Homo sapiens: one gene and its partner. The protein of the gene in region 1 purifies or fractionates together with the protein of each later gene. This does not show direct contact. Each region holds a gene or a part of one and is shown in the gene's direction. Other genes may lie near its edges. The genes, in order: PRUNE2 and EIF2A.

The links.
Region 2: the proteins of PRUNE2 (region 1) and EIF2A fractionate together in Homo sapiens (co-fractionation; one large-scale study listed by BioGRID). This does not show direct contact.

The regions. Positions count from the first base shown.
Region 1 is NC_000009.12:76,703,595-76,707,423, reverse strand, and holds part of PRUNE2 (protein prune homolog 2), read left to right. Parts: coding exon 1-2,663; intron 2,664-3,324; coding exon 3,325-3,829. UniProt on the Homo sapiens protein: May play an important role in regulating differentiation, survival and aggressiveness of the tumor cells.
Region 2 is NC_000003.12:150,577,786-150,581,614, forward strand, and holds part of EIF2A (eukaryotic translation initiation factor 2A), read left to right. Parts: intron 1-3,829. UniProt on the Homo sapiens protein: Functions in the early steps of protein synthesis of a small number of specific mRNAs. Acts by directing the binding of methionyl-tRNAi to 40S ribosomal subunits.

The DNA.
Region 1 (3,829 bases):
AACTCCTACATTTTTAGAGATCTGGAATGACTCAGTTGATGGTGATTCCTTTTCCTCTTTATCCAGTCCTGAAACAGGCAAATATTCTGAACATTCAGGGACACATCAGGAAAGCAATCTAATTGCTAGCTACCAGGAGAAAAATGAACATGACATTTCTGCAACTGTGCAGCCAGAGGATGCCAGGGTCATTTCAACAAGCTCAGGTTCTGATGATGACAGTGTCGGTGGTGAAGAGTCAATAGAGGAAGAGATCCAGGTGGCCAACTGCCACGTTGCTGAGGATGAATCCAGAGCTTGGGATTCATTGAATGAATCTAATAAGTTCTTGGTCACAGCTGATCCTAAGTCTGAAAATATTTATGACTACCTAGACAGCTCAGAGCCAGCAGAGAATGAGAATAAGTCAAACCCATTCTGTGACAATCAACAAAGCAGCCCTGATCCCTGGACTTTCTCACCATTAACGGAGACTGAAATGCAGATTACAGCAGTGGAGAAGGAGAAGAGATCTTCTCCAGAAACAGGGACAACAGGAGATGTTGCATGGCAAATATCTCCCAAAGCTTCGTTCCCAAAGAACGAAGATAATTCTCAACTGGAAATGCTGGGCTTCTCAGCTGATAGCACTGAGTGGTGGAAGGCCTCACCCCAGGAAGGGAGACTAATTGAAAGTCCATTTGAAAGGGAGCTGTCTGACTCCAGTGGTGTGTTGGAGATAAATTCTTCAGTACACCAAAATGCCAGTCCCTGGGGAGTACCAGTTCAGGGTGATATTGAGCCCGTGGAAACACACTATACTAATCCTTTTAGTGACAACCATCAGTCACCCTTTCTGGAAGGTAATGGGAAGAACTCCCATGAGCAACTCTGGAACATTCAACCAAGGCAGCCAGACCCAGATGCTGACAAGTTCAGCCAGCTTGTAAAATTAGACCAAATTAAAGAAAAGGACTCAAGAGAGCAAACCTTTGTGTCTGCTGCTGGTGATGAGCTGACTCCTGAAACACCTACCCAAGAGCAGTGTCAGGACACCATGCTGCCAGTCTGTGATCATCCGGACACAGCCTTTACTCACGCAGAGGAAAATAGTTGTGTTACATCTAATGTTTCAACTAATGAAGGTCAAGAAACAAATCAGTGGGAACAAGAAAAATCATACCTAGGTGAGATGACAAATTCAAGCATTGCCACAGAAAATTTTCCTGCTGTCAGTTCTCCCACCCAACTGATAATGAAGCCAGGCTCTGAATGGGATGGCTCTACCCCAAGTGAGGACTCCCGAGGTACCTTTGTGCCAGATATTTTACATGGCAACTTTCAAGAGGGTGGGCAGCTGGCCTCTGCCGCGCCTGACTTGTGGATAGATGCTAAGAAGCCCTTCAGTTTGAAAGCAGATGGTGAGAATCCTGATATCCTGACGCACTGCGAACATGACAGCAATTCTCAGGCTTCCGACAGCCCTGATATATGTCACGATTCTGAAGCAAAGCAAGAGACTGAGAAGCACCTCAGTGCTTGCATGGGACCTGAAGTGGAATCCAGTGAGCTTTGTCTCACTGAGCCAGAGATAGATGAAGAACCCATTTATGAGCCTGGACGGGAGTTTGTCCCATCCAATGCAGAACTCGATTCTGAAAACGCAACTGTGCTGCCTCCAATTGGCTATCAAGCAGACATAAAGGGCTCCTCTCAGCCCGCCTCTCATAAAGGTTCACCTGAACCTTCTGAAATAAACGGTGACAACAGTACAGGTTTACAAGTATCAGAAAAAGGAGCCAGCCCAGATATGGCACCAATTTTGGAACCAGTTGACAGAAGAATCCCAAGGATTGAAAATGTGGCAACTAGCATTTTTGTAACTCACCAAGAGCCAACTCCAGAAGGTGACGGTTCTTGGATATCAGACAGCTTTTCTCCTGAAAGTCAGCCTGGTGCAAGAGCTTTGTTTGATGGTGATCCACATTTATCCACAGAGAATCCTGCCTTGGTTCCTGATGCTTTGCTAGCCTCAGACACTTGTCTGGATATAAGCGAAGCTGCCTTTGACCACAGTTTCAGCGATGCCTCAGGTCTCAACACATCCACGGGAACAATAGATGACATGAGTAAACTGACATTATCCGAAGGCCATCCGGAAACGCCAGTTGATGGGGACCTAGGGAAGCAAGATATCTGCTCATCTGAAGCCTCGTGGGGTGATTTTGAATATGATGTAATGGGCCAGAATATCGATGAAGATTTACTGAGAGAGCCTGAACACTTCCTGTATGGTGGTGACCCTCCTTTGGAGGAAGATTCTCTGAAGCAGTCGCTGGCACCGTACACACCTCCCTTTGATTTGTCTTATCTCACAGAACCTGCCCAGAGTGCTGAAACAATAGAGGAAGCTGGGTCTCCAGAGGATGAATCTCTGGGATGCAGAGCAGCAGAGATAGTGCTTTCTGCACTTCCTGATCGAAGAAGTGAGGGAAACCAGGCTGAGACCAAAAACAGACTGCCTGGATCCCAGCTGGCTGTGCTGCATATTCGTGAAGACCCTGAGTCCGTTTATTTGCCGGTAGGAGCAGGCTCCAACATTTTGTCTCCATCAAACGTTGACTGGGAAGTAGAAACAGATAATTCTGATTTACCAGCAGGTGGAGACATAGGACCACCAAATGGTAAGAAACATTCCATTCTTCCACTTCCAAGAAACTGCTGCGTTGATTAAACTAGTGCATATTTGTAAGACACACTCTTCCTACCAATGAGGGTAGAGAGAAAACTAACTACATTTTCAAGGCATGCCTCACTAAGTCCTGTATTATAACAGCAGTAAAATCTAGTGCATATGTAATACCTATTCCTGATAGTGCACGAGAAAATCGAATGACTCTACAAAATAAAAATATTTTCTAGCTGGGCGCGGTGGCTCACGCCTGTAATCTCAGCACTTTGGGAGGCCAAGGAGGGGGGATCACCTGATGTCAGGTGTTCGAGACCAGCCTGGGCAGCATGGTGAAACCCCATGTCTACTAAAAATACAAAAATTAGCTGGGCGTGGGGGCAGGTGCCTGTAGTCCCAGCTACTCGGGAGGCTGAGGCAGAAGAATAGCTTGAAACCAGGAGGTGGAGGTTGCAGTGAGCCGAGATCACACCATTGCACTCTATCCTGGGTGACAGAGCGGGACTCTGTCTCAAATGAATGAATGAATAAATAAATAAAATATATAAAAAATATTAAATTACCTCTTTTAGATGATCATTTGCAAGGATCACAAATCACACAATGTGTTAATTAAACCTTTTTCTCCTCTTCTCACTTTCAACTTCCACTTCTAGGTGCCAGCAAGGAAATATCAGAATTGGAAGAAGAAAAAACAATTCCTACCAAAGAGCCTGAGCAGATAAAATCAGAATACAAGGAAGAAAGATGTACAGAGAAGAATGAAGATCGTCATGCACTACACATGGATTACATACTTGTAAACCGTGAAGAAAATTCACACTCAAAGCCAGAGACCTGTGAAGAAAGAGAAAGCATAGCTGAATTAGAATTGTATGTAGGTTCCAAAGAAACAGGGCTGCAGGGAACTCAGTTAGCAAGCTTCCCAGACACATGTCAGCCAGCCTCCTTAAATGAAAGAAAAGGTCTCTCTGCAGAGAAAATGTCTTCTAAAAGCGATACGAGATCATCTTTTGAAAGCCCTGCACAAGACCAGAGTTGGATGTTCTTGGGCCATAGTGAGGTTGGTGATCCATCACTGGATGCCAGGGACTCAGGGCCTGGGTGGTCTGGCAAGACTGTGGAGCCGTTCTCTGAACTCGGCTTGGGTGAGGGTCCCCA
Region 2 (3,829 bases), on another chromosome or scaffold:
TTTGACAGGTCTAGGCTGGTTATGTGTTTTGGGAGGCAGTTACTATTTTAAGGTATAGAATTGTATTATGCAACCATATTCTGCTAAAATCTGGACTTTTAGAAAAACCATTCTGTTCATTTGTAGTTAATATGTTTCATCCCCAGAAGTATCTTAATTGGTCAGCTTTAGGTTATTCCAAGTAAAAATGATCTATTCCATGCATTTGATATTAGATTTGTATAAAAGCAAGTCTTGTCCCTTCATCAGTACAAGTAGGGACCTCTACTGGCCCTGGATATTACAACTCATTAGTAGTATCCTTAACAACTTGATAACTAAGATGCCCTTTGAGTTTTAGGGCCTCTCTGAAACGCACTCAACTTAGAATTCTATTTTTATAAGCAAAGTTTCTTCCACTTTATCAAAAGATATTTTTAATATGACCATTGGTGATACTGGACTAAGATTCCTTTATACTTATTATATAAATAATTACTTACATAATTACATATGATTATAATTATTAATAATTATAACCATTAATTAATATACTAAATTATAATTGTATTAATTATATAAATAATATACAAATTCTATTAGTTTATACATTTTATAATATAAATTATGTGATAATTTCACATTTAATTAATATAATGAAATTATTATTATAAATAATAGTTATTTGTAACTCTGTTATAAATGTGTAACTCTTTATAGCTCATGGTAATAGTGTGATCAGCTGGGCTGATCAGTTATAAATTTACAACTCTCAGTTATATGTTTATACCTGTCAGTTTTTTTTAAAAGAGCCAATACAGTCATCAAGCACCTACACACGTTTTTTACTAAAGATGATACCAAAGGTGATACCAGTAATCCCTCATTGTGGAATTGCTTTTTGAGTTGTTTTTCCAGTAATAGCAAAGGTTTTCAACTTGCAAGATAAACTATTCAGTATGTATTTTGGGGACGACTGGCTGAAGTTAGTAAAAGTTGTGGCTGTGTGATGGAACAAAGCTAAATGGCCCTTGACAGAATCTCACCTTATCCAGACCTTCTTAGTCCTGACTCTGAAGTAAATAGTCAAAGATAGAGCAGTCAGATATATGTAATCTAACTAGTATTTTTGTAAACTGGTGATAATTTTATAAGTTTGTTGACTTTACCAAAAAAGAGTTGAAACATAAGAATTTAATCTTACCATATATACGTCCTTTCTAGAGAATGGCTAGAATTTAAGTATAATAATGCAGACATTTCAACTTGTTCTTGGTTAGTTTGTGGGGAAAAATAAATTTTATATATCACTTAATTTTAATGGTTTTTCACATGATAAGATTAACCTTTCTTCCTAGAGAGCTATATTCTTAGCTCATTACAAACAACTAAAATTTTATATTTTTAAAATCTGATATCAAAAGTGAATTTTGATAGGCAGAATATCCCCTCTTCTTTTATTTACTCTTCTACTTTAATTTTATATTGTGAAAAATATAAAACTGCCTATTACCAGAACTTACAGGCTCCTTAAGAGGAGAAACTTAATATTTTCTTTCGAATTCTCAAAGTGCCCAGTAATTTGTTTTCATGTAGAAGGTAAATAATTGTTTATTAAATAGTACCAAAAAGTGAAACCAACATGACTTTAAAAAGAAAAATTGGCTGGATGCAGTGGCTCACACCTGTAATCCCAGCACTTTGGGAGGCCGAGGTGGGTGGATCACCTGAGGTCTGGAGTTCGAGATCAGCCTGTCTAACATGGTGAAACCCCATCTCTACTAAAAATACAAAATTAGCTGGGTGTGGTAGCAGGTGCCTGTAACTGTAATCCCATCTACTTGGGAGGCTGAGGCAGGAAAATCGCTTGAACCCGGGAGGTGGAGGTTGCAATGAGCTGGAATCGTGCCACTGCACTCCAGCCTAGACTCTGTCTCCAAAAAAAAAAAAAAAGAGAAAAATTGACTTCAATTCTGTATTTTCTAAAAACTCTTAGGCAGACTTTTAGAGTTGAATATCTAGAAGTGATACCCTATTCTATGTTCCCTGAGGATCTGAGGATGCTTTAAAAGTTCAGAGTATCCTACCCAGAACTCTGAGTAAAAGGTTATGGAGACCTGGAGCATTATATATATATTCCACTGGAAATTCTATAAGAAGTAGAAACCCTACGTTGGAGCCAATAAATACTTACATAATTTTTTCCCCTCTTACCAAAATATATATCTTGTCATAATTATAAAGGAAGAGTCATTCCTTTATTTTTTATTTATTTAGCCTGTGCAACGAAGCAAGTATTATGCTAGAGGCTCAGTTCTAATGGGGAATGGTAGAATATGGTGTTACCGTAGGGAAAAATACTGGGCATTATGAGAGCCTGGGAAAGGTGCGACTATCCAGTCTTAAGGTGGGGAGATTTTCCAGAAGACTTAAAGGATAAGTAGGGTTCAGCCAGGTGACTTGTGGGGGAAGGTGTTCTAGGCACAAGGAACAATATATAGTAGTCTCCCTTTATCCTGGAGGGGCAGAGCTATGCCTGAAACCACAGATAGTACCGAACCCTATAGAGACTGTGATACACAGTAAGAGATTAACAGTAACTCATAAGAAAATAGAGCAATTATAATAATATACTGTAATAAAAGATATGTGAATATGGTCTCTCAAAATATCTAATGGTGTTGTATTCACCCTTTTTGCGACAATGTGAGATGGTACAATGCTTGTGTGGTAAGTTGAATGACCACGGCTATAACTTGCAGTTCAAGGCGCAACTGCAAAACTAGCACTAATCTCTTTTTTCTTCTTCCCAAGTTCATGGATAGGTTTAATCTTACTGTAAATCATAGCAAATCAGCATACAATATTTTTTATTCCTTATTAAGAACTTTCACCTTTTCACTTAAAGGGAGCACTTTACGGCTTCTCTTTGGCATATCCGAATTGCCAGCATCACTACTCTGCACTTTGGGACCATTATTAAGTAAAATAAGGGTTACTTAAACACAACTACTGTTGATACTGTGACAGTCGATCTGATAACCAACACAGCTACTAGTGAAAAATAGGTGGGGAGCGAATACACTGTGGATACACTGGATAAAAGAATGATTCTCGTTCTAGGCAGGATGCTGAGAGATTTCATCACACAGCTTAAAACTTATGAATTGTTTATTTCTGGGATTTTCCATGTAATATTTTTGGGCTGCAGTTGACGCTTGGTTACTGAAACCATGGTTAAGGGAGACTGCTGTACACAAAGGCCAGGGGCAAGAGTATACAGCACCTTAGCGGAAATAAAAGTGATTCAGAATCAGTGAGGAGGGACAAGAAAAGTTATCAGAGGTCTGATCATATTGGAAGCATTATGGCATCCCTTTAAGGGGAAAAAAGTTTTGTGGTACTTTGTTGCAGAGCTGAATTGATCTGATTATAAATTAATATCTGTAGGATTCTTATTCTTGTAGCATAATCCATTACAGGTACTTGATCATACATATTCTTTATAGTTTTGGAGAGAGCCTTGTAAGAGTGAAACTTTAAACACCTTAAATAGAAAAGCCCTCTCATATGTTCAAACCATCTATCTACTGGCACATCTCAGAATATGCAAAAGTTTGGAATGCTTGTTGGCTGGTACAGAAACTTCCTGGTTTACTCTGATAAGGTCATTTTATTTCTAACATGGGAGTATGTAGCATACTTCATGAGACCTTTAATTCAGATTCTTTATATAAAATGTAGATAAAATCACATATTTAGTTTCTGTATTTCATATGCCAAAGCTATGTTGATTTAAATACTGTAATGTTTTTGGCTTTTAAAATTGAATTTAAAAAAATATTTCCTG